Homo sapiens: one gene and its partner. Changing the gene in region 2 together with the main gene of any one other region gives a genetic interaction. Each region holds a gene or a part of one and is shown on either strand. Other genes may lie near its edges. The genes, in order: IL21R and LCK.

Region 1 (15,935 bases), on a different chromosome or scaffold from region 2:
CCCTAGGGCTCTGTGATGTAGGCAGAGGTAAGAAATTAGGAGGGATGAGGAGTTTTTTGTTTGTCTGTTTGTTTTTTTAAAGACAGGGTCTCACTCTTTCATTCAGGCTGGAGTGCAATAGTGCAATCATGGCTCACTGCAGCCTGGACCTCCGGCACTCAAGTGATCCTCCTTCCTCAGTCTCCCGAATAGCTGGGACCACAGGCACACAGCACCCGGCTAACTTATTTTTACTTCTATTTTTATTTTTGGTAGAGACAAGGTCTTGCTATGTTGGTCAAGCTGGAGATGAGGAATATTGAATCTGGGCAAAGGAGTTTGCACTTTTTGCTGTGCTGTGGTCAAGATAAAACCATCAGGGAGTGACGGGGACAGAGCTATGTCAGGACTCGCACCGTGGCTGGGGTGATGGATGTGGACAGAATAGTGAGGGGGCAGACACAGACTCCCCCTCCTGCGATCAGAGGCCACATCTTCAAAGTGTGATAACAGGACCTCTGCAGGGGTTGGAATCACACAGGATTCATATTCCTAAAAGCAGGTTGAAACTGCATCTACCTCAACATTATTTTATTTGAGTAGTGATGTTATTGCTTAGGATGATGCTGGAGTTAAATTTTTAAGTGTGCTTATCTATAGAAAATATATTAAAATATGTATTAAAATAAACAACAGTGCACACAATATACAAATATGGCCAAAATTTTGGATATGAGATATTTTGGCAACTCTTGGCTAGATCATTCTGAGACCCCCTCTGTTTCTGAGGCTCTACCTTCTCCATCAATTACAGCTGTTGTTTGAGTGTTTATGTGATGGGGGCCATCTGCAGGGTTTTATGCAAATCACCTCCTTGAATTCTCACAAGCCTGGAAGCAGGCCTTGCTGTTTCCACTTTACAAGGCTCAGAGAGGGCAAGGGACTGGCCCGGAGCCACACAGCTGGTCATCTGAACCTTCCTGGCCCCCCAGCCTGTGCCCTGCCCCAGGGTTCTTTGATGGCTCTGTGAGGGAGGTCAGAGGGAACTATGGATGGGGCCAGAGTAGGATCTTTGGGAACCCCGGCACAGAGGAGGAGGATCTTCCCCTTGTGGAGTCAGGGATGGCGTCTGGAGAAAGCCATGCCTGTGACTTGGGTCCTGCATGGGGCATCCCTCTTAGGTTTAGCTTTAGCTCCATTCTTGTCTATAGGGGCTGGTCTGGGAGGGGCTCCTGAGTCTGGGCAGGTGGACCACTGCCCTCTGGCTGGCACTTCCTCAAACAGACACAGAGCTGGTGGGTGAAACAGACAAGTCCCAGGAGAAGCCTGGCATCGCCAGACTGGTGGGGCATTCCTCTGCCCAAGACAGTAGAGGGCACTCTTTCTGGATAAACTCACTCTGCTCCCCAAAGAGGTTCCTTCTCCATCCTGGCCCAAATTAGGAGGTCAGGTTGTCTCTGTTTGGTCAGGCCTGGATTTCCTAGCATGCTCCCGAGTGGGCTAATCTGGGCTTTGTGATGGAGTAAGGAGCCTCATTATTGGGCTAACCTTATCTTAAGTATTCAGCAGTGGTTAACTTTGTGGGTTAACTTTGGATTTATTATTCAGTAAGAAGCCAATTTATTGATGGCTGGGTGCAGTGGCTCATGCCTGTAATTCCAGCACTTTGAGAGGCTGAGGTGGGTGGATCACCTGTGGCCAGGAGTTCGAGACCAGCCTAGTCCACATGGCAAAACCCTGTCTCTACTAAAAATACAAAAATTAGCCAGGCGTGGTGGCGGCCACCTGTATTCCCAGCTACTTGGGAAGCTGAGGCAGGAGAATCGCTTGAACCTGGGAGGTAGAGGTTGCAGTGAGCCAAGATCGGGCCACTGCACTCCAGCCTGGGCGATAGAGTGAGACTTTGTCTAAAAAATAAACATAAAAAAGCCAATTTACTGGCTTTTTTTTACAACATGGATGTTTATAGGAAGGAAGATCCAAAATTGCTCCTCAGCAGATCCCCCTTTCCAAACTAGTTTTTTCTCCTTTTCTCTCTCCCTTCCTCTCTTTTTCCCTCCCTCTTTCTTTGTTAGATAGATAAATACACAAGTTTAATTTCACACACAATGCTACATCAATAGGCTCAGCAAGGGCAAAATAGTCAGCAGTCTCCTCCCTCTTTAAATTCACCTTGTGCTGGGCGTGGTGACTCATGCCTGTCATCCCAGCACTTTGAGAGGCCGAGGTAGGAGGATCATGTGATCCCAGGAGTTTGAGACCAGCCTGGGCAACATAGCAAGATGCCGTCTCTACAAAAATGTTTTAAAAATTAGCCAGGCGTGGTGGCACGTGCCTTTGGTCCCAGCTACTCGGGAGGCTGATGCAGGAGGATCGCTTGAGCCCAGGAGGTTGAGGCTGCAGTGAGCCGTGATTGCGCCATTGCACTCCAGCCTGGGCAACAGAACATGACCCCATCTCTAAAAATATTAAAATAAAATAATAAAACAAATTCACTTTGCATTTGTGACGTGATGGGGCGGGGGCAGGAAGAAGGTGGGAGAAGGGATTCTTGGGGTGAATCTGCCATTTCTAAGAGGTGGGAGTTCTTGGGGTCATCCACAGGCCCCTCGGGATCTTGCATTTTTCTTAAGACAGTTCCAAGAATCAGGGGCAAGTCTGCCTGGGAAGAGACAGGATGAGGGGGAGGCCGGGGGAGCCCTGAGCCCGCCTGGCTCACCCTCCACTGTACGTCTCTTGCAGGCCCGTGGGAGTCAGCATGCCGCGTGGCTGGGCCGCCCCCTTGCTCCTGCTGCTGCTCCAGGGAGGTAAGTGGCTGCCCCGTGGTCTGCGGGTGGGGAGGGCCCCCATCACAGAGCTGAGCCAGGGCCGGGCTGGCTTTCTGGGCTCAAAAACACGGCTAGAGTCCACAGATTCAGAAAAGATGACATCCATGCCCTTGAGGCTGACACGAGTCCAGTAGCCGGCTCTCCACTAATCAGAATCCATCCACCAAAGGGCTCCATGAAACAGAAGCGGTAGACATGAGTCTCAGGTGGCCCAGCCCACAGGCTTGTGTCTTCGGGTGTCACTGGGGGGATGAAAGGCTTCGTCCTTCATTTCCCCTGACCTCTGCCTTGGCTGGCTCCCAACTCTCTGAGTGAGGAAGTTCTGCCTTCCATCTAACCTCAGTTTCTCCTTATGTAATGACTCTCCTTGGAAATGTTTTTCAACAATTGCTGCACCGGGTGCGGTGGCTCCTACTGGAATCCCAGCCCTTTGGGAGGCTGAGGAGGGTAGGTCGCTTGAGCTCAGGATCTCAAGACCAGCCTGGGCAACATGGTGAAGCCCTGTCTCTACAAAAGAAAAAAAATTAGCCAGGCATAGGAGCGCATGCTTGTAGTCTCAGCTTTTTGTGGGGCTGAGGCGGGAGGATTGCTTGAGCCTGGGAGGTGGAGGTTACAGTGAGTCAAGGTGACAACTGTACTCCAGCCTGGGCAACAGAGCGAGACCCTGTCTCAAAACAACAGCAACAACAACAACAATAAACAAACAAAAAAATCGCTAGATTCTTAGCAGGCACTGGTGGTCCCTGGGCTGGGGACAGGAGGAAGAGCCAAAAGGAGACTGAACCTTGGTAGGCAGCCCCCAGAGGACCAGATGTTGTGGTTAGAGGGGGTGACGTTAGAAAGCAGAACTGGGAAGACCAGGAGTCCGACTGAAAGGGCACTGCCTAGGACTAAGAGATCCTGGAGGGCTTCCTGGAGGAGGGGGCCATGAGGAGGCGGGATCCAGCACAGACTTGTGTGGAGGCCGGCCTAGGGGCAGGGGAGGAACTCAACAGCTGCTCTGCTGACTCATGGGCATTTTTCTCTGGTTTTTACCAGAAGACCCAGGACCTCAAATAGCTCCTTCAGGAAACAGATGTCAAGCTTTGATTTTCCCTTTCTGAGTGGCAAGCATCCTCATCTTGGTTCTAAAAAGCCTTTGGGTCACCCACCATGGCTCCACATCTGGCGGGTGCAGATAACAAGCCCTGGCTGCATGCAAAGCTCGGAGCGTCATCCCATTCCACTGTCCCAACAGCCCCACAAGGCGCATGTTGTAATGACGCCCAGTTTTTTGGCTGAGGAGGCTCAGAGAGGCTAAGAGACAGGTGCATGGCCACACTACCCGGAAGAGGCAGAGCTGGGATCAGTTTGCTCTTGGGGTCTGTCTTAGTCTGTCTGTGCTGCTGTAACTGAATACGTGAGACTGGGTAATTTATAAATAATAGACATTTACTGCTCGCAGTTCTGGAGGCTGGGAAGTCCAAGATCAAGGCACCAGCAGTAGCTTTGATTCCGGTGAGGGGCCCATCTTTGCTTTTTTTTTTTGAGACTGAGCCTTGCTTTCTCACACAGGCTGGAGTGCAATGGTGCAATCTTGGCTCACTGCAACCTCTGCCTCCCAGGTTCAAGCAATTCTCATGCCTCAGCCTCCCGAGCAGCTGGGATAACAGGCACATGCCATGGCTAATTTTCGTATTTTTAGTAGAGTTGGGGTTTCACCATGTTGGCCAGGATGGTCTTGAACTCCTGACCTCAAATGATCCACCCGCCTCGGCCTCCCAAAAGTGCTGGGATTACCGCACCCAGCCCCCATCTTTGCCTTTAAGATGCCACATTGAACGCTGCACCACCCCCAGAGGGGACACACGCTGCATCCTCACATGGCAGAAGGGCAAAAAGGGTCTGAATGTTGGGTTCGTCCAGCCCTCTTATAGCATCAATAATTCATTCAGGGGGGCTCTGCCCCCATGACTTAATCATCTCCTAGAGTCCCCACCTTTTAATATGATCACATTGGCAACTGAGTTTCTGGGGAGACACAGACGTCAAACCGTAGCACGGCCTTCACCATGCTGTGCTGCTATCTGTGGAGTGATAGCCATGTGCGGGCAGCATGCAGGCACAGGCATGATCTCATCTCAACACCTCAACAGCCTCTAGGGCAAGCAGTGTCTCCGGCTTACACATGGGGAGGAGAAGCAGTTTTGAGTCACATGTTTGCAGTCACAGAGCTACTTTGTGCACCTCTCACTGCCTCCTGCACGCTTTCATAACCCCAGACATGGGATGGCCCTGGGGCTCTCTGCCCTGTGGCTGGGGTACTGACAGGGCATTTTCCCACCCTCTCATCCCTGGTGCCACCTCCCTGCCACTCAGGGGCTGCCGTTGCCTCCCCAAGTTTGGAGACAAACCCTGTCCCTTGGTAGCTTTGAGCCTGGCTAGGAATGGTAGCTCCTCTCCAAATTCCCAGAGCTCTGAGAAAGAACCACGAGGATACGAACTCAGAGATGACACAGCTACTTAGAGGCTCTGTGTTGAGGTTTTGCCAAAATCAGTCCTGTTTTCTCCACCAAGTGCTGGAACTAGCTCCTTTTCACTCCACCGACAAGTTCTGTGTGTCTCCCTGAGGAAAGCCCCCTCCTAGAGCAAGATTTACTTCCATGACTCAGATCCCTTGGTAGCCACTGCCTCGAGAGAAGTTGAGAAGCATTCCGAGGTCACACCTAGGGGAGGGAGTGCTGTGATCCATTAGCAATATCTGTCATGTGTGCGGCTATGAAAAACTAGCACAGACTAGGTATTTCCTTCCCTGGGTGAGTGTCTCAGCAGCCCAGACCAAGAGAGACAAGAGGCATGGTCTAGTCTTGGAGCCTCAGTGTTCTCATCTCTACAATGAACTAAAGGATATTTCCAGACACAGTATTCTTGGCTCCGCATATAGGTTCTGTCCTAGAGTGAGACCCAGGAAGGGAATCTACCACCACCACCTCAGGGGTCTTCATTAGTCCAGGGAAAATAGGAAAAAGCCACCAAAAATGAACCTACTTAAAAAGGGGAACAAGGTCAGGCACGATGGCTCATTCTTACAATCCCAGCACTTTGGGAGGCTGAGGCAGGTGGATCGCTTGAGCTCAGGAGATTGAGACCAGCCTGGGCAACATGGTGAAACCCTGTCTCTACAAAAACACAAAAATTATCCAGGCATGGTGGTGCACAACTGTAGTCTCAGCTACTCAGGAAGTTGAAGTGGGAGGACTGCTTGAGCCCAGGAGGTGGAGGCTGCAGTGAGCTGAGATCGCACCACTGCATTCCAGCCTGGGCAACAGAGCAAGAGATCCTATCTCAAAAAGAGGTGAGCGGTACAAGTTTCTAGTAAATAGCAGCAAAAAATAGTGGAATTGGCACTCGAATATACAAAACAAAGCTACAAATTATTCCATTGATTTTGTCCACATTTAACAAAATGTAGATGATGATTGCACCCCTGTTTTAGAACACAGCGAAACAATTAATGTTTGGGGAGCAGGATGGAAAGGTGTTAAATCTTCCAACAAAATTGCCTCATAGGGCAATACCTAGAAGACTTCTTGGTGGCGGTGGCATTTTTGGCCGCAGGATCACGCAGACCTTTATGCAAAAGTGTCCGAGGGCTTTTTAATTCTCTCACGGTTTCCTACTCCTTGAAGCACTTCCTGAATCTCCGAGAGTGGGTGTCCTGTGGATCCAACTTCTGTAGAGCCGAGTCCTCTTCCTTGTCAGGGTTTTGGGACATTTTCAGCATAGCTGTCCTTGACTCTATGAGGTCCTGACCCTCTTGGGGTGTGTGCGTGTGCTCTGGCTGGGTTCCTACCACATCTGGGGCATTTAGGATATTGCCATTCTGAGTGGGAGCTTGGCCAGGAGGGACACAGACCTGGTGGCCGGGCGCAGGGCTCTGGAGGAGGGTGCTGAGCTGGGGACCAGCTAGTTTTATATTATTTGCCATCACATGCATCCTGTCTTCATAGCCAGCCTTGAAACATTGGTGCTCAAACAAGGAATTTCCAGGTGGTGAGGCCCCCTGGGTGCCAGGCCTACATCTAAGCAGCTCCTGAGTCCTCATATTTGTCCCGGCCTGGGGACCCCTGCACCCATTCTTCCTCCAGCCCTCGAGGGGATGGAGAGGAAGCTCTGCAGTCCCAAGCCACCCCCCACCAAGGCCTCTCTCCCCACTGACCCTCCAGGCTGGGGCTGCCCCGACCTCGTCTGCTACACCGATTACCTCCAGACGGTCATCTGCATCCTGGAAATGTGGAACCTCCACCCCAGCACGCTCACCCTTACCTGGTAAGTAGCCGGGCCTCACCAGTCCCCGGGGATGCAATTCAGGGTGCCTGCTCAGTGATTCCCCCAGGAGGACACTGTGCACTGAGGACCACTGTGTCCGCCTTTCAGACAACCACTCAGGGCTCACAGGACTTGAAAAGTCAGGAGCCCGCAGGGTTGGTCTATCCACCAGCTTCAAAGGCCACTCTCTCACCCACACAGGTCGGCCATGGTTTTGAGACCCCGGGATGGCTGGTTTCCCGCATGATTTTTCAAGCACTTAGGTACCAGGCCCCCAACTACACGCTTCCCATGAATGGTCACCCCCAACCCTCACAATGATTACTCCCATTTTACAGATGAGGACATTGAGGTTCAGAGAGGTTAAGCAACTTGCCTAAGGTCACACAGCCAGTGAATGCTGGAGCTGGGATTCAAATTCAGACCGCCCAACTCCAAAGTCCATGGGTCCCTTTTAGACCCTATGCAGCTCAGGATAAAGAAGAGCTTCTGTTATCCATCAGCTCATTCATTCATTCAAAACCATTTATAGGCCAGGTGCAGTGGCTCATGTTTCTAACCCCAGCACTTTGGGAGGCCAAGGAAGGAGGATCACTTGAGCCCAGGAGTTTGAGACCAGCCTGGGCAACATCACAAAACCCTGTCTCTACAAAAAATAAATCAGTCGGGCGTGGTGGCACAATCCTGTAATCCCAGCTACTTGAGAGTCTAAGGCAGGGGGACCAAGCTCAGGAGGTCGAGGCTGCAGTGAGCTATGATCACGCCACTGCACTCCAGCCTGGGCAAAAAAGCAAGATCCCAACTCAAAAACAAAACAAAACAAAACAAAACATGTATTAAGTTCCTGCCAGACACTGTTGCAGGCACTGGGGATTCAGCAGAGCAAGACTGACCAGGCCCCAGATGCCTTGGAACTGACGTACCACGGTGGGGCGGAGGCTGGGGGAGACAGACACACAAAACAACCAACAAGGTGCTTTCTCTTTTTTATTTTATTTTATTTTATTTTATTTTATTTTTTTGAGACAGGGTCTTGCTCTGTTGCCCAGGCTGGAGTGCAGTGGTGGGATCAGAACTCACTGTAGCCTTGACCTCCTGGGCTCAAGCAATCCCTCCACCTAAGCCTCCTGAGTAGCTGGGACTACAGGCATGCATCACCATACCTGGATAATTTTTGTAGTTTTTGTAAAGACAGGGTTTTGCCATGTTACCCAGGCTGGATTCAAACTCCTGGGCTCAAGCAATCTGCCCACCTCAGCCTCCCAAAGTGCTGGGATTACAGGTGTGAGCCACCATGCCAGGCCCAAACAGGACACTTTCTTTCTTTCTTTTTTTTGGAGACGGAGTCTCACTCTGTTGCCCAGGCTGGAGTGCGGTGGCATGATCTCGGCTCACTGCAACCTCCACCTCCTGGGTTCAAGCAATTCTCCTGCCTCAACCTCCCAAGTATCTGGGATTGCATCCAGGTGTGCACCACCATGCCTGGCTAATTTTTGTATTTTAAGTAGAGACAGGGTTTTGTCATGTTAGCCCACCTGGTCTCGAACTCCTGGCCTCAAGTGATCCGCCCACTGTACCCGCCTTTCAGACAACCACTCAGGGCTCACAGGACTTGAAAAGTCAGGAGCCCGCAGGGTTGGTCTATCCACCAGCTTCAAAGACCACTCTCTCGCCCACACAGGTCGCCCATGGTTTTGAGACCCCGGGATGGCCGGTCTGCCGCATGGCCAGCCTCCCAAAGTGTTGGGATTACAGGCATAAGCCACCGTGTTCTGCCCCAAACAGGATACTTTCTAATAATACTGGGTGCTATATCAAGGACAGAACACTGGACCTCAGGTAAAGGGACCACAACTGCTAGTGAGAAGGAGGAAGCCAGGGAGCTGGGCAGAGGGCACTGCCAGTGCAAAGGCCCTGTGGGAGAAGAGCTGGTGCGTTTGAGGAATAGGGAGGAGGTCAGTGTGGCTGGAGTGGAGTGAGGCAGGGTGAGGGGGAATAAGGAGCAAGTTCAGGCTGGGAGGCTTGGAGAGCATTTATTCAGCAGGAACTTGTATTCCAGCAAATTTGGCAGAGAACTCAGTCCACACATCCCTACTGGGCCTAGAGAGTGGTCATGTTCAGATCCTGAACATCTAGGTAGGGAAATTAATATCCGGTAAACTACTATACATACTTCAAAACCCATCATTTTTGTCCAGTGGGAGTTAAAAAGCCACAGCATTTTCCCTAATCCCATCCCACCAACTTTCCCAGAAGTCCACCCAGAGGAGGAGATGAGGTTCATTTAGCTCTTTTCCTGGCCCTCAGCACAGGCTATTATTAGATATTCAGTGGATTTGGGGACTGGGCGAGGTGGCTCAGTCCTGTAATCCCAGCACTTTGGGAGGCCAAGGCTGGCAGATCACTTGAGCCCAGGAGTTTGAGACCAGCCTAAGCAACATGGTGGGACCCCATCTCTACAAAAAATACAAAAAGTTAGCTGGGCATGGTGGTGCATGCATGTAGTCCCAGGTACTGAGGAGGCTGAGGTGGGAGGATCAGCTGAGCCTGGGAAGGTCGAGGCTGCAGTAAGCCATGATCACACTACTATACTCCAGCCTGGGGCCAGAGTGAGACCCTGTCTCAAAAAAATGGATGTTGGACAGAAAGGAGAGAAGGAAACCCAAAATGCCTAGCGCCCTTCCTGCAGGACAGCCATCTGGTTGTTGGGACCAACAGGGACAGATTTAGGCTTAGTCCAAGCAAGAATGGCCCAAATTTCCAAAATTGAGAGCTGCTGCCCTAAATGAGGTAGTGAGTTCCTGGCCCCTGGGAGGTGTGCAAGCTGAGCCCGGACACAATTCATTGAGGATGCTGTAGGGGAGGTGATACCTTCCCTGGGAAAAGGTTGGTTGGACCAGGTGACCACCCCCCAGCCCTGCCTCAAATCCCTCCCAGCCCTGAGAGTCTGGGCTTCTGCCCTGGCCCTGAGCACTGAGCCCACCACCATCCCCCCTGCCCCTGGCTTCCAGCCATGACCGGCTGCTTTGTCCTTGAAGGCAAGACCAGTATGAAGAGCTGAAGGACGAGGCCACCTCCTGCAGCCTCCACAGGTCGGCCCACAATGCCACGCATGCCACCTACACCTGCCACATGGATGTATTCCACTTCATGGCCGACGACATTTTCAGTGTCAACATCACAGACCAGTCTGGCAACTACTCCCAGGAGTGTGGCAGCTTTCTCCTGGCTGAGAGCAGTGAGTATCCTGGGACCCCAGGCTTAGGGTGGCACTCAATCTTAGCTCACCGCAGCCCTGACCTCTCTGGGCTCAGGTGATCCTCCCACCTCAGCCTCCCGTGTAGCTGGGACAACAGGTGTACACCACTACACCCAGCTAATTTTTGTATTTTTAGTAGAGACGGGGATCTTGCCATGTTGCCCAGGCCAGTCTCGAACTCCTGGGCTCCAGCGATCCACTTGCCTTGGCCTCCCAAAGTGCTAGGATTATAGGTAGGGGCTGGGTCCCCTACTCCCTGCCCTCTGGGCCAGCTCTCCTCCTTCCATCAGATCTGACCTGGCCTATGTCCTCACTACACCTTAGAGTTCTGTTTTGAGTTGCGCTATTTTTTACTAAAGTGTGAAAGGTTGATAATAGGTTTGAGAGGTATTGAAGGAGCTAGGCTGGGACCCGGGACTTCTGGGTTCGTGTTCCGGCTCAGCTCTGCCCATCTGTGTGACCATGGATGAGGCATACCTACCTCTGGGACAGCTTCCCTATTTGTAGAGCAAATGTCCTTTTAACCCTGACTTTCTGGGATCCTGACCCCATAATGAGGCGAATGGACGACACTGAGTTACAGAAAAAAAAAACCCTCTTGGGTTTTTTCCCCTTCATAAGCTCCAGGGAGGCCTGGAATTTCCCTCCAGGCTGGAGGTAGAGGGGGGTCCCAGGGGCAGGAGGGCCTGGTTGGTGGGAGCAGTTTTATCTGTGAGTTCAGAATTAGGGCAGGTGGCAGGGCGAGGTGGCTCATGCCTGTAATTCCAACACTTTGGAAGGCTGAGGCAGGAGGATTGCTTGAACCTGGGGCTTTAAGACCAACCTGGGCAATATAGCGAGACCTCATCTCAAAACACAAAACAAGAACCAGGGCAGGGGCCAGGCACTGTGGCTCACGCCTCTAATCCCAGCACTTTGGGAAGCTGAGGCAGGTGGATCGTTTGAGGTCAGGTGTTCGAGACCAGCCTGGGCAACATGGTGAAACCCCATCTCTACTAAAAATACAAAAAAATTTGCCGGGCGTGGTGGCACACGCCCGTAATCCCGGCTACTCGGGAGGCTGAGGCAGGAGAATTGTTTGAACCTGGGAGACAGAGGTTGCAATGAGCCAAGATCATGCCACCGCACTCCAGCCTGGGCGTCAGAGTGAGACTCCGTCTCAAACAAAACAAAACAGAACTAGGCAGGGCATGGAAGGGCCTGGGAGGTGGCTTTGGCATGGTGTGTGTGTGTGTGTGTGTGTGTGTATGTGTGTACCCAAAGCGGCCCCAGAGGCAAACACAGGCTGCAAAGGGAGCCTGCCCTCAGGAAGGCCCCGCCCATGAGCTCGGGAGTTTCTGCCGCTAGATTCCCAGCAGAGGGGCTGGGGTATAAGAGGTGTCTGTGATTCACACTCTGGGGGTCCAGGTTTGCACCTCTTTGCTGAGTGGATGTCACACCACAGAGCGTGAGAGTGAAGCTTCACACACTCCCAGACACATGCACACTCACGCAAATTCCCAGGGTCACAGACTCACGCACACACAGACTCATAGATGCGCCCTCAAACTCACAGATGTCTCCCCAGCCCCAGCCTGCATGGCATGGACACAGAGGCCCACACTGCCTCTCTCTCTTGCTCTCTCTCACTCTCATACACACTCACACATACATACACACACACACACACACACACGTACACAATACACACACACTCACACATATACTCTCACATCACTCATACATGGGCACACACACGCACACACTCACACATGCATTCTCACACACGTGTAGACTCACACATGCACACACATATACACTTTCTCACACGTGTGCACACACGCACATATACACATACTCATACACTCTCACATCACACACGGGCACACATATGCACACACTCACACATGCATTCTCACACACGTGTACACTCATGCACAGACACACACATTACTCACGGGCACACATGCACACACTCACACATGCACAGACTCACAAGGGGACCCTCCTTGCCACTTGTCTTGCAGCGTGAATCCAAGCATTTCTCTCTGGCATTCCCTCCCTCCCTGCCAGGATCTGCAGCTAGCCTGGTCCCAGCTGGGGCAGGAAGTGATTTTCTAACCACCTCCCGCCGAGGGTCCCTTCCTCCTCCTGGGCCCTGGGCCTCGCTGGGCTGAGCAGCCCCTCTTCACGACCCCCAGGCTCTGCAAACATCTCCCGAGTACCCACGGGGCAGTTCTCAGTACCCTGGTGTCTTCTGGGACTCATCCTCACCCAGCCACACAGGGAAGCCGAGAGCCGGCCTCCACCTGCCCCGGGGAAGACAAAAGAGGGGTTAGAAACGATTTCAGTCAAAAACATCCCATTACTGGAACAGCAACAGCAACAACCCAGTGTTCACCATGGCATTCTGTAAAATGTGCACCTCTGTCACCTCGGGGCGTGGTGGGAGCCCTCAGTGCGGGTTTCAGGATCACAGGCAGCCTTAGAGCTCCTTTCTGGAGGCCTTGCAAGGTTCATTAGTTAATCTGACAAATATATATATATATATATATATATATAGAGAGAGAGAGAGAGAGAGAGAGAGAGAGAGCGAGCAAGCGCGCGCCAGGGTGTAGCTTTGTCCTCCAGCCTGGGGTGCAGTGGCACAACCATAGCTCATTGCAGCCTGGAACTCCTGGGCTCAAGCGATCCTCCCACTTCGGCCTCCTGAGTGGTTGGGACTACAGGTGCACATCACCATCCTGGCTAATTTTTAAATTTTTTGTAGAGCTGGGATCTTGCTGTGTTGTCCAGGCTGGTCTTGAACACCTGGCCTCAAGCAATCCTCCCACCTCAGCCTCCCAAAGTGCTGAGATTTTTGGCATGAGCCACCTTGCCCAGCCTAATTTGCCAAATATTTATTGAGGGCCTACTGTGCCCCAGGCTGTGTTCTAGGAGCTGTGGGCACAGACTGAACCTGGAGGACAAAACCTCTGCCCCAAGGAGCTAAGAGCCCAGTGAGGGAGGCACATAGTAAACAAAATCACAGGGTGAGAGGTGCAGAGTGTTAGATGGTGGCAGATTGAAAGTGAAGAAGGTGGCTGGGTGTGGTGGCTCACACCTGTAGTCCCAGCACTTTGGGAGGTTGAGGTGGGTGGATCACTTGAGGTCAGAAGATCAAGACCAGTCTGGCCAACATGGGGAAACTACTTCTCTACTAAAAATACAAAAATTAGCCAGTCATGGTGGTGCGCACCTATGGTCCCAGCTACTTGGGAGGCTGAGGCCGTGTAATCGCTTGGGCTTGGGAGGTGGAGACTGCAGTGAGCTGAGATCACGCCACTGCACTCCAGCCTGGGTGACAGAGATTCTGTCTCAAAAAAAAAAAAAAAAAAAAGAAAGAAGAGAAAAAAGAAAGGGAGGGAGGGAGGGAAGGAGGGAGAAAGGAAGGAAGGAAGGAGAACAAAAAAAGAAAAAGTGGAGAAGGTGAGGGCAGAGGCCTGCAACTCCTCTCTGACACTAATAGACACTTGTCACTCAGTTCCTCTGAAGTTACTGCCTTCTGCTAAATAGCTTCATCCCTTTGAACTTGAAGCCCCATGATATAGGAACTGAGCCCATTTTACAAGAGAGGAATTTAAGGCCCTTAACATATTGTGTTCTGCTCAAGTTCATGAAATGTCCTTCGAATGGAGCAAAAACAGAATGCCGGCTTTGACCTTCACCTGGAGGCCGCCCATGAAAGCTTGCTGTTATGGCTCAGAGCTCGGCTCTTGCACTTGCCAGGAGACGCTGAAAGATGAGGACCATCAGATTGGCCTCCCAGGGCCACTGTGGGGTGTCAAACTGCCCAGAGCAGGGCAGCCAGGCAGGCTCTGTGTAAATGGCAGCCCTCACCATTAGCATTCATGCTAAGAAGAGTCATCAACTGCTTGAAGTAGCTGGGGTTGAAAGAAAATGATACCATCATTTAGAACAGAAATGGAAAATGAATGGATTTGCCAGCACGTTGCTGAGAACATTTTTGGATGGGTTGCTAACTTTAAAACTTAATATAGGCCAGGTGCAGTGGCTTGTTCTTGCAATCCCAGGATTTTGGGAGGCTGAGGTGGGAGCATCACTTGAGGCCAGGAGTTTGAGACCAGCCTGGGCAAAGATAGTGAGACCCCATTTCTACAAAACAGACAAATAATTAGCCAAGTGTGGTCGCATCCACCTGTAGTCTCAGCTACTTGGGAGGCTGAAGTGGGAGGATGGCTTGAGCCCAGGAGGTTGAGGCTGCTAGTGAGCTATGATCGCACCACTGCACTCCAGCCTGGGCAACACAGTGAGATCCTGTCTCTAGGGGGAAAAAACCCTTGGAGATTTCACATGATAATTCCAGGGGTCTCCCGTTTCCCATTCTGCACCTCATATTGAAACTTGCCCTTCAGTGCATAGAAAGCAGGGTTTCAGATTTCATGTGTGTGCGTGTGCATTTGTGTGTGTGCATGCTGTGCGTGTGCATGTGTGTTGCATGTGTAGGCATGCGTTTGGGTGTGCATGTGTGGGCATGCATGTGTGTGGGTGTGCATGTGCACATGTGTTTGTGTATGCGTGTGTGTAGGCATGTGCGTGTGTGTTTCCCTAGAAAACTTAGAAAAGCTGACCACTCTGTGCTGCTGGGGCCATTCACTTTTAACTCTTTTATTTATTTATTTTTGTTCGTTTTTGAGATGGAGTCTCGCTCTGTCGCCCGGGCTGGAGTGCAGTGGCGCAATCTTGGCTCACTCCAAGCTCTGCCTCCCGGGTTCACGCCATTCTCCTGCCTCAGCCTCCCGAGTAGATGGGACTACAGGCGCCCGCCACCACGCCCGGCTAATTTTTGTATTTTTAGTAAAGATGGGGTTTCACCGTGTTAGCCAGGATGGTCTCGATCTCCTGACCTCGTGACCCACCTGCCTTGGCCTTCCAAAGTGCTGGGATTACAGGCATGAGCCACTGCACCCAGCCAGACTGTTTTATTTCGTCACAGTCCCTAAACCTGCTTCACTCCTCTCTGTGACCTGCCCGCCCCTGAGTTTGCAATCCTGATCAGGTCTAAATCTCCCAGGTCCCAGATGAATAAACTGAAGCCCAGAGTTGGGAGTACTTTGCCCAAAGTCACTCAGGGTTGTTGGTCTTCATCTCATCCATGATGGGTCAGGCATGGAGGCAGGGGTGGGGGCAGGCAGGACTTCCTCCCATCACCAAATCCTTTTCACCTGCAGCAAATTCTCACCCCATTTTCTTTTCCTGGGTTTTTCCACCAAGTCAAGCCGGCTCCCCCTTTCAACGTGACTGTGACCTTCTCAGGACAGTATAATATCTCCTGGCGCTCAGATTACGAAGACCCTGCCTTCTACATGCTGAAGGGCAAGCTTCAGTATGAGCTGCAGTACAGGAACCGGGGAGACCCCTGGGCTGTGGTGAGGAATGTGGGGATCAGTGCAGCTTTGTGGGAGGGGAGGGGAGATGACGGAGTGCAAAGGCATCTGGGTGGGAGAGACGGGTGAACAACATCATTCATGGCCAAGAACAGAGACCAAGGGCACGAGCACTCCCTTACAGCGGGCCCTCCT
Region 2 (15,935 bases):
TTCTCCTGCCTCAGCCTCCCAAGTAACTGGGATTACAGGCGTGTGCCACCACACCCGGCTAATTCTGTATTTTTTAAGAGACTGGATTTCTCCATGTTGGTCAGGCTGGTCTCAATCTCTCGACCTCAGGTGATCTGCCCGCCTCGGCCTCTCAAAGTGCTGGGATTACAGGCATGAGCCACCATGCCCGGCCTAATTTTGTATTTTTAGTAGAGACAGGGTTTCACCATGTTGGTCTGGCTGGTCTTGAACTCCTGACTTCAGGTGATCTGCCCTCCTCGACCTCCCAAAGTGCTGGGACTACAGACGTGAGCCACCGTGCCCAGCTCGACTCCTGTTTCTTAAACTGAGATACTCAGCCTCCCATGGGTACCGGAAGTCATGTCATGGTGTGCATTTTTCCAGAGCATGAGTGTTTCCTGACCTTATTCATGTAAGTTAAACAAACATGACCTATTATGGAGGAAAATGCAAAATGTGCATGGAATTTTAAATCAAATCAAGAAACTTTCCAGGAAAAGGGTACGTATTCACTCTTTCCCCTACTGTTAGGAGTCCTGGGGGGAGGTGGACATTTGGGAAATCCTGCTAGACCAGAGTGCACCCATCTGTGACTGCAAATGACTTTTTGACTATTATAGCCTGAGAGTAATTAGCAACAAGAGCCCCCAGTAAAGGACTAACAGCAACCTGGAACTGGTCTCAGATAAGCTGAGCTGTTTTGTGAGGTAGTGAGCATCCTGTTGTTTGTGATAGTCGTATGAGCCTTAGGAAACCACAAGTTGGTTGTGTTGTAAAGAGAATACCAACATCAGATGGAATGTGGACTTAGACCAGTAAGGTCCCTGCCAGGCTTGACATTCTTGGAGCCTTTAGAAAAAGGCAAGAGAAAGATTGTAGAAGTTTGAGGTTAAGAAGAGGGAATGTATAGGAGGAAGGGAGAGATGGGAAAGAAGAAGAAGGAGGAGAAAGAAAGGGAGGGGGAAGGGGAGGGGGAGGGGGAGGAGGGGGAAGAGGAGGGGGAGGAGGGGGAAGGGGAGGGGGAGGGGAGGAGGGGGAAGAGGAGGGGGAGGAGGGGGAAGGGGAGGGGGAGGAGGGGGAAGGGGATGGGGAGGAGGGGGAAGGGGAGGGGGAGGAGAGGGATGAGGAGGGGGAGGAGGAAGAGGAGGAGGAGGTGAAGGAGGAGAGGAGGTGGTGGTGGCGGAGGAGGAGGAGGAGGAAGAAAGGGCGTAGTAGCTCAGGCCTATAATCTCAGCCCTTTTGGAGGCTGAGGCAGGAGGATCTCTCTTTTTTTTTTTTTTTTTTGAGACAGAGTCTCGCTCTGTTGCCCAGGCTGGAGTGCAGTGGCGTGATCACGACTCATTCACTGCAAGCTCTGCCTCCTGGGTTCACGCCCTTCTCCTGCCTCAGCCTCCCGAGTAGCTGGAACTACCGGCGCCCGCCACTGTGCCCGGCTATTTTTTTTTTTTTGTATTTTTAGTAGAGACGGGGTTTCACCATGTTAGCCAGGATGGTCTTGATCTCCTGACCTTGTGATTTGCCCGCCTCAGCCTCCCAAAGTTCTGGGATCACAGGCGTGAGCCACCGTGCCCGGCCAGGAGGATCTCTTGAGCCCAGGAATTAGAGACCAGTGCCTGGGTAACACAGTGAGACCTTATCTCTACAAAAAAAATCTGAAAATTAGCAGGGCATGGTGGTGCGCCCCTGTAGTCCTAGCTACTCAGGAGGCTGAGTGGGGAGGATCACTTGAGCCTGGGAGGTTGAGGCGGCAGTGAGCCGTGAACACGCCACTGCACTCCAGCCTGGATAACAGAGCAAGAGAGCAACACCCTGTCTCAAAACAAGGCCGGGTGCTGTAGCTCATGTCTGTAATCCCTTTGGGAAACCAAGGCAGGAGAATTGCCAAGAGTTTCAGACCAGCCTGGGCAACGTAGCAAGACTCAGTCTCTATATAAAGGAAAAAAAGAAGAGGAAGAAGAAGGAGGAGGAGAAGGAGAAGAGATAAACTATGGTGCAACAGTGAGAAAAGGCCAGTAGAAGAAGCAGAAGGAATCTAGGTTGGAGATCATGGGGCTGGAAGCTGGTACCTGGTCCAGGCTGGGGTCAGGTGGGGAGGGAAAAGGAATCACAAGGCCTTGGGCTAGGATCCAGGAAAGCATGCAAGGCAGGTCCTAGATTCTGGACTGAATCTGGGCCAGAAAATCCCCGACTTAAGACTGGGCAAAAAGTGAGAAAAAGTCAGCCTATGTTAAATTAAGATCAGAGGAACTCTAGCTTTGCAGGGTATCTGGCCTCTACTGTTTCCTCTATGGCCCCCCAGCTACAGGTGGCAGTTCCTGCCCTCTATAAGCATGTGAGCTTTGGAGGATAGGGCCTGGCAGCAATCGTAAGTCCATAGGATCTGGCAATGCCAGAAATGTTTGTAGTCAGAGGCTCCCAGCCTGAAGTTTACATGCTCCCAGGAAGTCCCAGGCTAGTGCCGGGGAGGCCTTTAGGTTATTTTAATATTTCAAAAATCTGAAAGGAAATTCCACTATACTTTGTTTCTTGTTTTGACAAATTGTATTATTTATTTCTTCATTGCATACTTAATTAAATCGCTGATTACATTTTTTTTTTTTTTTGAGACAAAGTCTCACTCTGTCACCCAGGCTGGAGTGCAGTGGCGCAATCTTGGCTCACTGCAACCTCCGTGCCTCAGCCTCCCGAGCAGCTGGGATTACAGGCACGTGCCGCCACGCCCAGCTAATCTCTCTATTTTTAGTAGAGATGAGGTTTCACCATGTTGCCCAAGCTGGTCTTGAACTCCTGACCTCAGGTGATCCACCTGCCTCGGCCTCCCAAAGTGCTGAGATTACAAGCGAGAGCCACTGTGCCCAGCCAAATCTTTGATTAAAATGTAAACTTGAGGCCAGGTGCAGTGACTCACACCTGTAATCCCAGCACTTTGGGAGGCTGAGGAGAGAGGATCGATTGAGCCCCGGAGTTTGAGACCAGCCTGGGCAACGTGGTGAGACCCTTTCTCTATTAAAAGAAAAATTTTTTTAACTTGAAAATAAGAAAATTTGCATCTAAATGAGGTAGCTTAGTAGGTAAAAACTTTAAAATCATGAGATCCATGTGGGGAAGAGGGAGTGTAGAACAGGGAATGGTAAAAGACACTTTGTCTTCACAAGAGTTTAGGAAACACAAATACAGTTCATCAGCCTCATTTTAAAACTGGGGAAAAGGAGAGGTTCAGTGATTGTCCCAATAATACACTGAGGGTTCCTGGCAGATGCAAAACTCATATCAAAACCTTACATCCTTTTTTTTTTAGACGAGGTCTCACTACGTTGCCCAGGCTGGTCTCTAACTCCTGGGCTCAAGCGCTTCTCCCACCTCAGCCTCCCAAATAGCTGGGATTGCTGGCATATGCCTGGCTTGGCTCCTACATCCTTTATCAAGATCCTCTCCTCTACTTTTCACTCCCTGGAAAGTCTAAGGGTGGAGGGGGAGGGCTGAGAGGTCTAGGAGAATGTGAGGCAGGAAGGCAGGTCTGACAGGGTAGGGTCCATTTCCCATCAAAAATTTGACCACTGTGCTGTTAACAAAGGCTTTTCTCTTCAAGACAATCCCCCCTCTACCTGGAATGCACGTTTCTGGGTATATATTTACCTGCCTGTTGAATGCAAGTCTGTGCATATGAAAACATATGCAGTGAGCCCTGTGCTTATGGGTGCATATCTGTGGGTTTGCAGGAGTCTGTGTGTGCAGAGGGATATATAACAGAATGAGACTATGAATAGCAGCGACCGTCCCTATGTAATTGTGAAGTCATATAGGCATACATCTGTTTATACAAAATGTGGGTATACCCCATCCTTCCGGTCTTCTTCTTTTTTTTTTTTTAAACAGGGTCTTGCTCTGTCGCACAGGCTGGAGTGCAGTGCAGTGGCACTGTCTCAGCTCACTGCAAACTCCTGCCTCCTGTGCTCAAGGGATCCTCTTACCTCAGCCTCCTGAGTAGTGGGGACTGCAGGCCCATGCCACCAAGCCTGACTAATTTTTGTGTTTTTTGTAATGATGGGGTTTCACCATGTTGGCCAGTCTGGTCTTGAACTCCTGGGCTCAAGTAACCTGCCACCTTGGCCTCCCAAAGTGCTGGGATTACTAACCTGCCACCTTGGCCTCCCAAAGTGCTGGGATTACAGGCATAAGCCACCATGCCCAGCCTTTTATTTTTACTTTTTTGCAGTGACAAGGTTTCACCATGTTGCCCAGGCTGGTCTCAAACTCATGGGCTCAAGCAGTCCTCCCACCTCAGACTCCGAAAGTGTTGGGATGGCAGGCATGGGCCACCATGCCCAGTCTAATTTTTATTTATTTATTTATTTATTTATTTATTTATTTATTTATTTATTTTATTTATTTTGAGACGGAGTCTTCCTCTGTCCCCCAGGCTGGAGTGCAGTGGCACAATCGCAGCTGACTGCAACCTCCACATCCTGGGTTCAAGCAATTTCTCCTGTTTGAGCCTCCCAAGTAGCTGAGATTACAGGCATGCACCACCATGCCCGCTAATTTTTATTATTTTTAGTAGAGACAGGGTTTCACCATGTTGGCCAGGTTGGTCTCGAACTCCCAACCTCAAGTGGCCTGCCCACCTCCGCTTCCCAAAGTGCTGGGATGACAGGCATGAGTCACCAGACCTGGCCTGTGGCCTTTTTATAATCATCACAAAATGTTCTGTGGACCACGGGCAGCCTTAAGTTTGACTGAGAACATTACATGCCCTAGTCAGAGGCAGCCTCGAATCTATGAAATTCTTACTCGTGACCTTGGATTCCTAAATTGGGAGAAAAGAATGTCCTGTTTCATTCACCCCAGAATCTGCCCTCATTGCTGGTTCTGGGAGCCCTGGGGATTCCTTTCATCTGTTTTTTTTTTTTTTTTTTTCTCCCTTCCTCCACTTCTTTCTTTCAGACAATGAGAAATTTATATTAAGCTTTAATTTTGATTTTCTTTTTACTGACCTCATTTATTAACCTGGTTAGATCATGTTGGCTACTCAGCAATCTTTATCAAACTAAGACCAGAAGGAGTCTGGGCATGGTGACTCACGCCTGTAATCCCAGCACTTTGGGAGGCTGAGGCAGTAGGACTCCTTGAGCCCAGGAGTTCGAGAGCAGCCTGACCAACATGGTGAAACCCCGTCTCTACTAAAAATACAAAAATTAGCCAGGTGTACTAGGCGCATGCTTGTAATCCCAGCTACTCAGGAGGCTGAGGCAGGAGAATCGCTTGAACCCAGGAGACAGAGGTTGCAGTGAGCCGAGATCGCGCCATTGCACTCAAGCCTGGGTGACAGAACTAGACTCCATCAAAAAAAAAAAAAAGAAAAGAAAAAGAGATTCTCCTGCCACAGCCTCCCAAGTAGCTGGGATTATAGGCACGCACCACCACACCCAGCTGATTTTTGTATTTTTAGCAGAGATGGGGTTTCACCATGTTGGCCAGGCTGGTCTCAAAATCCAGTCCTCAAGTGATTCACCTGCCTCGGCTTCCCAAAGTGCTGGGATTACAGGTGTGAGCCACGGCACCCGACCATGCTCAGCTATATAATTAGTGGCCGGCGTCCGGCTACCGGGGGCCGTGGCTCACACCTGTAACCCCAGCACTTTGGGAGGCCGAGGCAGGTGAATCACTTGAGGTCTGGATTTTGAGACCAGCCTGGCCAACATGGTGAAACCCCATCTCTACTAAAAATACAAAGATTATCTGGGTGTGGTGGCACGTGACTGTAGTCCCAGCTACTTGAGCTACTTGGGAGGCTGAGGCAGGAGAATCTCTTTTTTTTTTTTTTTTTTTTTTTCTGACAGAGTCTAGTTCTGTTGCCCAGGCTGGAGTGCAATGGTGTGATCTCGGTTCACTGCAACCTCTGCCTCCCAGGTTCAAGCGATTCTCCTGCCTCAGCCTCCGGAGTAGCTGGGATTGGAGGCATGCGCCTAGTATGCCCGGCTAATTTTTGTATTTTTAGTAGAGACGGGGTTTCACCATGTTGGTCAGGCTGGTCTTAAACTCCTGACCTCATGATCTGCCCACCTCGGCCTCCAAAGTGCTGAGATTACAGGTGTAAGCCACCACACCTGGCCCTTTTTTTTTTTTTTTTTTTGAGACAGAGGACAGAGTCTCACTGTGTCGCCCAGGCTAGGGAGCAGTGGCACGATCTCGGCTCACTGCAACCTCCAACTCCCAGGTTCAAGTGATTATCCTGCCTCAGCCTCCCAAGTAGCTGGGATTACAGTCACGTTCCACCAGGCCCAGCTAATTTTTGTATTTTTAGTAGAGACGGGGTTTCACTATGTTGGCTAGGCTGGTCTTGAACTCCTGACTTCGTGATCCGCCCACCTCGGCCTCCCAAAGTGCTGGGATTACAGGCTTGAGCCACCACCATGCCCGGCCAGCAGGAGAATCTCTTGAACTGGGGAAGCGGAGGTTGCAGTGAGTGGACATCACGCCACTGCACTCCAGCCTGGTCCATGGAGTGAGACTCTGTCTCAAAAAAAAAAAAAAAAAAAAAAAAATTAGCCAAGCATGATGGCGTGATGGCATTTGCCTGTAGTCCTAGCTACCCAGGAGGCTGAAGTGGGAGGATCACTGAGCCCAGGAAGTCAAGGCTGCAGTGAGCCGTGATTATACCACTGCACACCAGTCTGGGCGACAGGGGACCCTGTCTCAAAAAAAGAAAAAATTAATTAAATTAAATTAAAAAAAATTTTTAAGTTAACATTTTTTCTCCTCCAACTATAGACCTATTGATTTATTGAACATTTTGTCCAAAATGTGTGCCAGCTTCGTGGCTGAGTTTCTTGGGCCAATGCTTTACATCAAGAACAGGCAGGTGGTCGGATGCAATGGCTCACGCCAGTAATCTCAACATTTTGGAAGGCCAAAGTGGAAGGATCACTCGAGGCCAGGAGTTCAAGACCAACCTGGGCAACATGGTGAGAACTCATCTCTACAAAAAATACAAAAATTAACCAGGTGTGGTGGTGCACGCCTGTAGTCCTAGCTACTCAGGAGGTTAAGGTAGGAGGATCGCTGAGCCCAGGAGGTTGAGGTTGCAGTGAGCCAATATCATACCACTGTACTCTAGCCTGGGGGAAAGAGCAAGAACCTCTCTCAAACAAAACAAAACAAACAAAGCAACACAAAAAACAGCAGACAAGACTATACTTCCTTTAGGGATCATTTCTTTAGTTCAGTTTCTCTGAACATGTAGAGCACAAAAAGTAAAAAAGAAAAAAGAACAAGCAGACTATTCTACTGCAGACCATTGTTGTACTCTGGACCACCTCATGGCAAAATCTGTCAGAAATCATTTAGAATAGCCAGGGCTGGAGGCTCACGCCTGTAATCCTAGGGCCGAGATGGGAAAATCACTTGAGCTCAGAAGTTCAAGACCAGCCTGGGCAACATAGTGAGACTTTGTCTCTGTAAAAATAAAAATAAAAGGCCAGGCGCAGTGGTTCACACCTGTAACCCCAACACTTTGGGAGGCTGAGGTGGGTGGATCATGAGGTCAAGAGATCGAGACCATTCTGGCCAACATGGCGAAACCTCATCTCTACTAAAAATACAAAAAATTAGCTGAACGTGGTGGTGCACACCTGTAGTCCCAGCTACTCGGAAGGCTGAGGCAGGAGAATTGCTTAAACCCGGGACTGCACTCCAGCGTGGCGACAGAGCAAGACTCTGTCTCAAAAATAAAATAAAATAAAATAAAAATAAAAATAAAATTAAAAAAAAATGAATCATTTAAAACATTTTCTTCGCCTTTGCCCCGACCCAGACTTGATTAATGACAAAGCTGCCCATGTTCAATAAAGAGCCTTAGCTATTCATGCCCACATAGAACCCTCATGACAATATCAAGCAATATCAAGAATCAGGGCTAGCAGGCATGGCAAATAATTTCTTTCTTTATTTTATTTTATTTTGAGACAGGGTCTTGCCCTCTTGCTCTCTTGCTCTCTTGTGCCACTGGAGTGCAGTGGCAAAATCACAGCTCACTGAAGCCTCGACCTCCCGGGCTCAAGCAATCCTCCCACCTCAGCCTCCTGAGTAACTGGGACAACAGGCATGTGCCACCACGCCTGGCTATTATTATTATCATTATTATTATTATTATTATTTTTATTTTTTTAGATGAAGTCTCACTCTATCGCCCAGGCTGGAGTGCAGTGGTGCAATCTCGGCTCACTGCAACCTCTGCCTCCCAGGTTCAAGCAATTATCCTACCTCAGCCTCCCGAGGAGCTGGGACTACAGGCGTGTGCCACCACACCTGGCTAATGTTTGTATTTTTAGTAGAGATGGGGTTTCACCATGTTGGCCAGGGTAGTCTAGAACTCTTGGCCTCAAGTGATCTGCCTGCATTGGCCTCCCAAAGTGTGGGATTACAGGTGTGGCATGAGCCACCGCACCCAGCCTCCAGCTATTTTTTTTTTCTTTTTCTTTTTCTTTTTTTTTTTTTACCTGAGAAGCTGTGAATGAGAGGGCCCGGGTAATTTTTGTATTTTTTTAATTTTTGTAGAGACAGGGTTTTGCCATGTTGCTCAGGCTAGTCTCAAACTCCTGAGCTTAAGCAATCCACTGCCTCAGCCCCTTAAAGTGCTGGGATTACAGGCATGGGCTACCGTGCCCCGTCAGTAATTAATTTCTAGTGGGTAAATCAGGGATGTGTCCTGGGCTACCTCCTTTTTCATATTTGTTTAAATACATAATACTTTTTTTTTTTTTGAGATGGTATCTCACTCTGTGGCCCAGACTGGAGTGCAGTGACACAATCATGGCTCACTGCAGCCTCGACCTCCCATAGCTCAGGTGATCCTCCTACCTCAGCCTCCTGAGTAGCTGGCACTATGGGTGGGCAACACCACGCCTGGATAATTTTTGTATTTTTAGTAGGGACAGGGTCTCACCACGTCACACAGGCTGGGTTTTTTTTTTTTTTTTTTTTGAGACGGAGTCTCGCACTGTTGCCCAGGCTGGAGTGCAGTGACGTGATCTCAGCTCACTGCAACCTCCACCTCCCAGGTTCAAGCGATTCTCCTGCCTCAGCCTCCCGAGTAGCTGGGATTACAGGCACCCGCCACCATGCCTAGCTAATTTTTTGTATTTTTAGTAGAGACGTGTTTTTTAGTAGAAACTAATTTTAGTTTCACTATGTTGGTCAGGCTGGTCTCGAACTTCTGATGTTGTGATCCACCTGCCTCCGCCTCCCAAAGTGCTGGGATTACAGGTGTGAGCCACTGCGCCCAGCCTGGTTTTTTTTTTTTTTTTTAAAGAGATGGAGTCTCACATCTCACTCTGTCACCCAGGCTGGAGTAGTACAGCACATGATTGTAGCTCACTGCAACCTGAAACTTCTGGCCTCAAGTAATCCTCCCACCTCAGCCTCCCGAATAGCTGGGATTACAGGCAGGAGCCACTGCACCTGGCTTTAATTCCGCTCTCTCTCTTTTTTTTTTTTTTCCTTTAGAGATGGGATCTCACTCTGTTGCCCAGGCTGGAGTGCGGTGGCATGATCATGGCTCACTGCAGCCTCAACCACCTGGGCTCAAGTGATCCTCCCACCTCAGCCTCCTGAGTAGCTGGGACCACAGGTACACACCACCAAGCCCAGTTAATTTTTTTATTTTTTGTAGAGACGGGGTCTGCCTATGTTCCCCAGGCTGGTCTTGAGCTCCTGGGCTCAAGCAGTCCCCTTGCTTTGGCCTCCCAAAATGCTGTGATTATAGGTGCAAGCCACCACACCTGGCTTAATACCTTTTTTGAATGAACTCTGTAGCCTCTCGACACAGAGAGAACAAAAAAAAAAGCATTATTTTGGATGCAAACAAAATGGATTTATTTTCACAAATTGGGAGTGTCTTGAACATAGAACTGATTCTGCTAGTCAAGTATCGCTATAAATAAGGGATATAGAGCAATTATTCTAATTGGTATTTTAGTAGAAGTCCCCCAACCAGTAACGTGAATATACCTGATAATCCCTTTTACTGAGTCCGCTCCCTTGGGTACTTTGGTGTGCTTTTTGTATCATGGACAGTTTTATTAGGATGGAGCCTTACTTACAGCTTGGCAATCCACACTGCTTTATAAACGTTTCTGGGAGTCTGGCAGCTCTGGAAGCTCAGTTCACCATGTCCATGCCATGGCAACCCAAATTCAATCCAGGTTCTCCCAATCACTTGCTGGCAGAAGGGCACCAGGCGTGGTGGTTCACACCTATAATCCCAGCACTTTGGGAGGCTAAGGTGGGCAGACAGATACGTGAGCCCAGGAGTTTGAGACCAGCCTGGGCAACATGGCAAAACCCCGTCGGTACAAAAAAAATACAAAAATTAGCCGGACTTTGTGTCCCATGCTTGTGGTCCCAGCTACTTGGGAGGCTGAGGTGAGAGGATCACCTGAGATTGGGGAGGTCAAGGCTACAGTTAGCCAAGATTGGGCCACTACGCTCCAGCCTAGGCGACAGAGCAAGACCTTGTCTCAAAAAAACAAAAAAAACAAAAAAAAAAAAAACAAGACTTACTGGCAGAAGGTTGTTGGGCAGCTTACTAAACCTCTGCACTTCCCTCAGTTCCTTCATCAGCAAAATGATGACAAAAATAAGACTTGCATCTAAGGCTGGCTGTGGTGAGCATTATACGTGATATATAGATGATCTCATATAATAAAATGCTTAACATAGTGCTTGCTACATAGACACTGGCCTTAAACATCTTTCAGGCTAAAATGATTGATCATTTTCATTTTCCTTCATGATTTTTGGCACTTCCACGGGCTACCTTTTCACGTTTGATATATGTACCTAAAATGGAAACTTTACTACCATAAATGGAAAACCAGAATCATGAGACATAAATAGAAGTGAAACAACAGCGCACACTAAAATAAACACATAAATTAACATTCGTAAATGGTCATCCATTATCCCCTAAAATCACTTACACACCTGAGTGGTGTACAGGTCATATTTTAGGAAATGCCACACTGCAAGAGAGAACTTTGGGCTTAGGCTGCTGCTTGTGGATTAAAGGAGCTGGCCTATTGACAAAAATGTAATGGGTGAGGTAGGACGATTGCTTGAGACCATACATAGTGTGAGTGCAGCTTGGGCAAAATAGTGAGATCTTATCTCCACACACTTTTTTTTTTTAAGACAGAGTTTTGCTCTTGTTGCCCAGGCTGGAGTGCAATGGCACGATCTCGGTTCACTGCAACCTCCACTTCCCGAGTTCAAGCAATTCTCCTGTCTCAGCCTCCCAAGTAACTGGGATTACAGGCGCCTGCCACCACGCCTGGCTAATTTGTTGTATTTTTAGTAGAGACAGGGTTTCACCATGTTGGCCAGGCTGGTTTCAAACTCCTGACCTCAGATGATGCACCCACCTCACCCTCCCAAAGTGTTGGGAGTTTAGTAGAAACCCCATTTCTACTAAAAATACAAAAGTTAGCCGGGCTTGGTGGCATGTGCCTATAGTCCCAGCTACTTGGGAAGCTGAGGCAGGAGAATTGCTTGAACCCGGAGACAGAGGTTGCAGTGAGCTGAGATAGTGCCACTGCACTCCAGCCTGGGTGACAGAGCAAGACTCCATCTATAAATAACTAAATAAATAAATAAATAAATTGTATTGTTATTATTATGTTTTAATAGAGACGGGGTGTTGCTATGTTGCCCAGGCTAGTCTTGAATGCCTAGTCTCAAGAGATCTTCCTGCCTCAGCCTCCCAAAGTATTGGGATTATAGGCATGAGCCACTGTGCCTGGCCAAGAATTTTTTTATAATTAGCTGGGCATGGTGGTACACATCTGTAGTCCTAGGCTACTCAGGAAGCTGAGGTGGGAGAACCACTCAAGCCCAGGTGTGTGAAGTTACAGTGAGCTATGATCACACCATGTGCCCCAGCCGGGGCAACAGACTGAGACACTGTCTCAAAAAAAAAAAAAAAAAAAATAAATTTAATGGGTACCTCCTATGTGCCAGATTCTGACCTAGAGCTGAGGATGCAGAAGTAAGCAGACAGAGAGCGTCCCATGCATTTGGCCCTGCCCTCTGTGACAGAGGTGGGTGCCCCTCTGGTGGGTCACTTCATTTTCACAGGAGGCTATAAGGCTTGTAGTTAGCTCACTGATCAATAATATCTGTGACTGCCGACAACATGGCCGCACATGACAGCAACACTTGCCAGGAAGTAACATTTCAAAATCACCACCGTTAACCATTTACCAAGCTAACGTTTAGTGAAACAGTTAAAAGGATGAGGTATTTTGTATTGACATGTATTGACACGGAAAGACATCCCGCATACACCATGGCAAGCAAGTTGCAGAACAGAATGCAGAGTATATGCCTATTTGCATTGACATATGTATACAGGGGATTCTTTTAAATAAGCTCTGTGCTAAGCCTTTATTTGCATTATTTCATGTAATTCTCATAATAATCCTATGAAGTGCTATTATTATCCCCATTTTACAGATGCAAAGACTGAGGCCCAAACCAGGTAAAATGATTTGTCTGAGGCCTCATAACAAACAAATGAGCAGTGGAGTTGTGAAGTGAGTCCCGGTCTGCCAGCCTGCAGAGACTAGACTTAACCTCCATGTTTTTCAGCAGCCATACATGGGAAAATCTGGAAGGACACACACCAAATTTTTCACGATGGGCATATCCCAGAAGTGGGATTGGAGGAGGCTGCATTTCTTGTATTTCTTTATATGCCTCTTACTGTTTGAGTTTTAAATTTTATTTTTTTTTTAAATAATTAAATAGAGATGGGGTCTGCCTATGTTGCCCAGGCAGGTCTCAAACTCCTGGGCCCATGTGATCCTCCCATCACGGCCCCCCAAAGTGCTAGGATTACAGGTGCGAGCCACTGTGCCTGGCCTGTTTGAGTGTTTTTAAAACAGCAATGTGCTAATTTTGTAATTAGAAACAAAAACAGCCGGGCGAGGTGGCTCATGCCTGTAATCCCAGCACTTTGGGAGGCTGAGGCAGGCGGATCACCTGAGATCGGGAGTTCAAGATCAGCCTGACCAACATGGAGAAACCCCATCTCTACTAAAAACACAAAATTAGCCGGGCGTGGTGGTCCATGCCTGTAATCCCAGCTACTCGGGAGGCTGAGGCAGCAGAATCACTTGAACCAGGGAGACGGAGGTTGCAGTGAGCCAAGCTCGCACCACTGCACTCCATCCTGGGCAACAAGAGTAAAACTCTGTCTCAAAAAAACAAAAAACAAACAAACCAAAAAAACCCCACAAAACTTAGCCAGACATGGTGGCACACGCCTGTAATCCCAGTTACTGGGGAGGCTAAGGCAGGAGAATCACTGGAACCTGGGAGGTGGAGGTTTACAGACATGCACCACCATGCCTGGCTAATTTTTTGTATTTTTAGTGGAGATGGGGATTCACCATGATGGCCAGGCTGGTTTCGAACTCCTGACCTCAGGTGATCCACCTGCTTTGGCCTCCCAAAGTGCTGGGATTACAGGCGTGAGCCACTGCACTCTGCCGTGTTTATTTTTTAGAGACAGAATCTAGCTGTGTCACCCAGGCCAGAGTGCAGTGGAGCGATCACAGCTCACTGCAGCCTCAAACCCCTAGCTCCAGATACTTTAAAATCAACACTGAGGTTGATTGTGAGAGGCCCCATTACTGGATGGTACCTTGGTCCCACCTGCTCCTCACCACCTACCCCACCCCACCCCACTGAGAATTACTTTCACTGAATTGAGCTTGGCCTTGAAGCCATCAGCTCGTGGGTGTGTGCATGGAGTTATAGGATGTAGTCTGTGTTTTATGTGTAGCCCCTGCCCTGCCTCTGAACACATCTGTACACGTAGATTTTCCCATGATATGTATGGTGTTTTGGCTTGTGTGTGTGTGTGTGTGTGTGTGTCTGTGTGTGGCTGCGTGAGAGACCCTCTTCTAAAGTAGATCCCATGGCCCCGCTCAGAGTCCAGCCTGCCTGAGTTCTCACACTCCTCACACTGTATACAGGAAACAGGCTGATTTGCAAAGCCACACCACAAGTGTGAGGGAATGGGTGGTTCACTGGCCCACCAAGGTGCTGAGTGGGCATAATTTGGGTGTGGACAGCCCTCCCTTTGGTGCATCATTTGCAGGGGGAGGGAGTGCCCCACCTCCCTTAAACACCTACTATGTGCTGGCCAGGTGCGGTGGCTCATGCCTGTAATCCCAGCACTTTGGGGGGCCGAGGTGGGCGGATCACGAGGTCAGGAGATCGAAACCATCCTGGCCAATATAGTGAAACTCCATCTCTACTAAAAATGCAAAAATTAGCTGGGCATGGTGGCGCGCCTGTTAATCCTAGCACTTGGGAGGCTGAGGCAGGAGAATCACTTGAACCCGGGAGGCATTTTTGTTTGAGATGGGGTTTCGCTCTGTTGCCTAGGCTGGAGTGCAATGACTCGATCTCTGCTCATTACAACCTGTGCATCCCGGGTTCAAGCAATTCTGCCTCAGCCCCCTGAGTAGCTAGGATTACAGGCACCTGCCACCACGCTCGGCTAATTTTGCATTTTTAACGAAGACAGGGTTTCACCATGTCGGCCAGCCTGGTCTCAAGCTCCTGGCCTCAAATGATCTGCCCGCCTCAGCCTCCCAAAGTGCTGGGATTACAGGTGTGAGCCACCGTGCCCAGCTTGATTATTGCCTCTTTACAGATAAGTAAACTGAAGCTCAGAGAGAGAGATGAAGCCACTTGCTCAAGGAAATGGTCCAGCGGAATTGTGACTGGGTCGGCCTGTCTCTGAAATGCACATTCTCTGCTCCACACCACACCTGTGGGCTCTCTGGCCTTTGGTCTTGCTCTGAGGTCTCTGCCCTCGTGGTACCCAAGGAACAGAATCCAGGGATAGTGACCTTGGCTTCATGTCCTACGCACTCTTGAAAATGGGTCTTTCTCCTTCTCAGAACTGTCTTGACTCTTGCAGGAAGCTTTCCAGATCTTAAGAGACACCTTCTCCCCTCCTCTGAACCAATGCTCAGCCTGTTCTTGGCCCTTGTCCACTTGGCCCTTCTCTCTTTGAGAAGAGCCTCTGTTCCTGGGGCCCAAGAGCAAGGGACCCTGTCTGATTCGTCTGTCAGCATAGGGCTGGGTGGAAGGAACTGCTCATGCCTGTCCAGGGTGAATGACCCTCCCTGAAGTGCGAGGAGAGCCACCATGTTCCCTAGCCCCCACAAGAGGCTACAGGACTTGGAGCTGTAGACAGGAGAAAGGCTGGGACCAGCTGACTAGGCGGAAAGTGTGTGTCAAGAAAAACTCCAACGAAGCAGGGGAAACCTGGAAATCTGGCTGAGTGAGGACTTCCCAAAAAAATTAAGGCTCAGAGTTAAAAAGTGAGGAGGTGAGCAGGTAGCAACTATGCCTCCCCAGTCTCTCTCCACCTCCCTGGGGTTTGAAGCAGGAATCAGCAAAACCAACTGGCCCTACACAGGCAGGGCTGAAGCGGGAGGGAGCCAGGGGCGAGGGGAGGACATCCTGCTGTGACGCTTGGCAGGGGCAGGAATGGTGACTTTCCAGATGGAAGTTCAGCGCTTCCTCACCCAGGACCAACTGCACCCCTGTCTGGGATAAAAATAGTACTTCCTCTTCCTTTCTCCCATCATTCTCTTTCACTTCCAACTTCCCATACTCAGATCAGATATGTCCATCCACCCTGGAGCTCCATCCCAGATGATGGACACCCCCACACATATCAGTTCACGCCCATCAGGAGATTCTTCCCTCGATCGCTGAGGCTAAAATCACTCCTCGCATGTCCATCTGGATGCCTTGGGTGATCTCTGTCTCTCTCTCTCTCTCTCTCTCTCTCTCTCTCTCTCTCTCTCTTTCTCAGGAGATTCTTGTCACTG

What was found.
Region 1: changes in LCK (region 2) and IL21R together harm fitness more than expected from each alone (negative genetic interaction), as found in Homo sapiens cells (one study listed by BioGRID).

What each region holds. Positions count from the first base shown.
Region 1 is NC_000016.10:27,427,335-27,443,269, forward strand, and holds part of IL21R (interleukin-21 receptor isoform 1 precursor), read left to right. Parts: exon of another isoform or gene 1-27; intron 28-2,721; coding exon of another isoform or gene 2,722-2,737; coding exon 2,738-2,786; intron 2,787-7,012; coding exon 7,013-7,115; intron 7,116-10,153; coding exon 10,154-10,353; intron 10,354-15,320; exon of another isoform or gene 15,321-15,627; coding exon 15,628-15,782; intron 15,783-15,935. UniProt on the Homo sapiens protein: This is a receptor for interleukin-21.
Region 2 is NC_000001.11:32,251,872-32,267,806, reverse strand, and holds part of LCK (tyrosine-protein kinase Lck), read right to left. Parts: intron 1-15,935. UniProt on the Homo sapiens protein: Non-receptor tyrosine-protein kinase that plays an essential role in the selection and maturation of developing T-cells in the thymus and in the function of mature T-cells. Plays a key role in T-cell antigen receptor (TCR)-linked signal transduction pathways.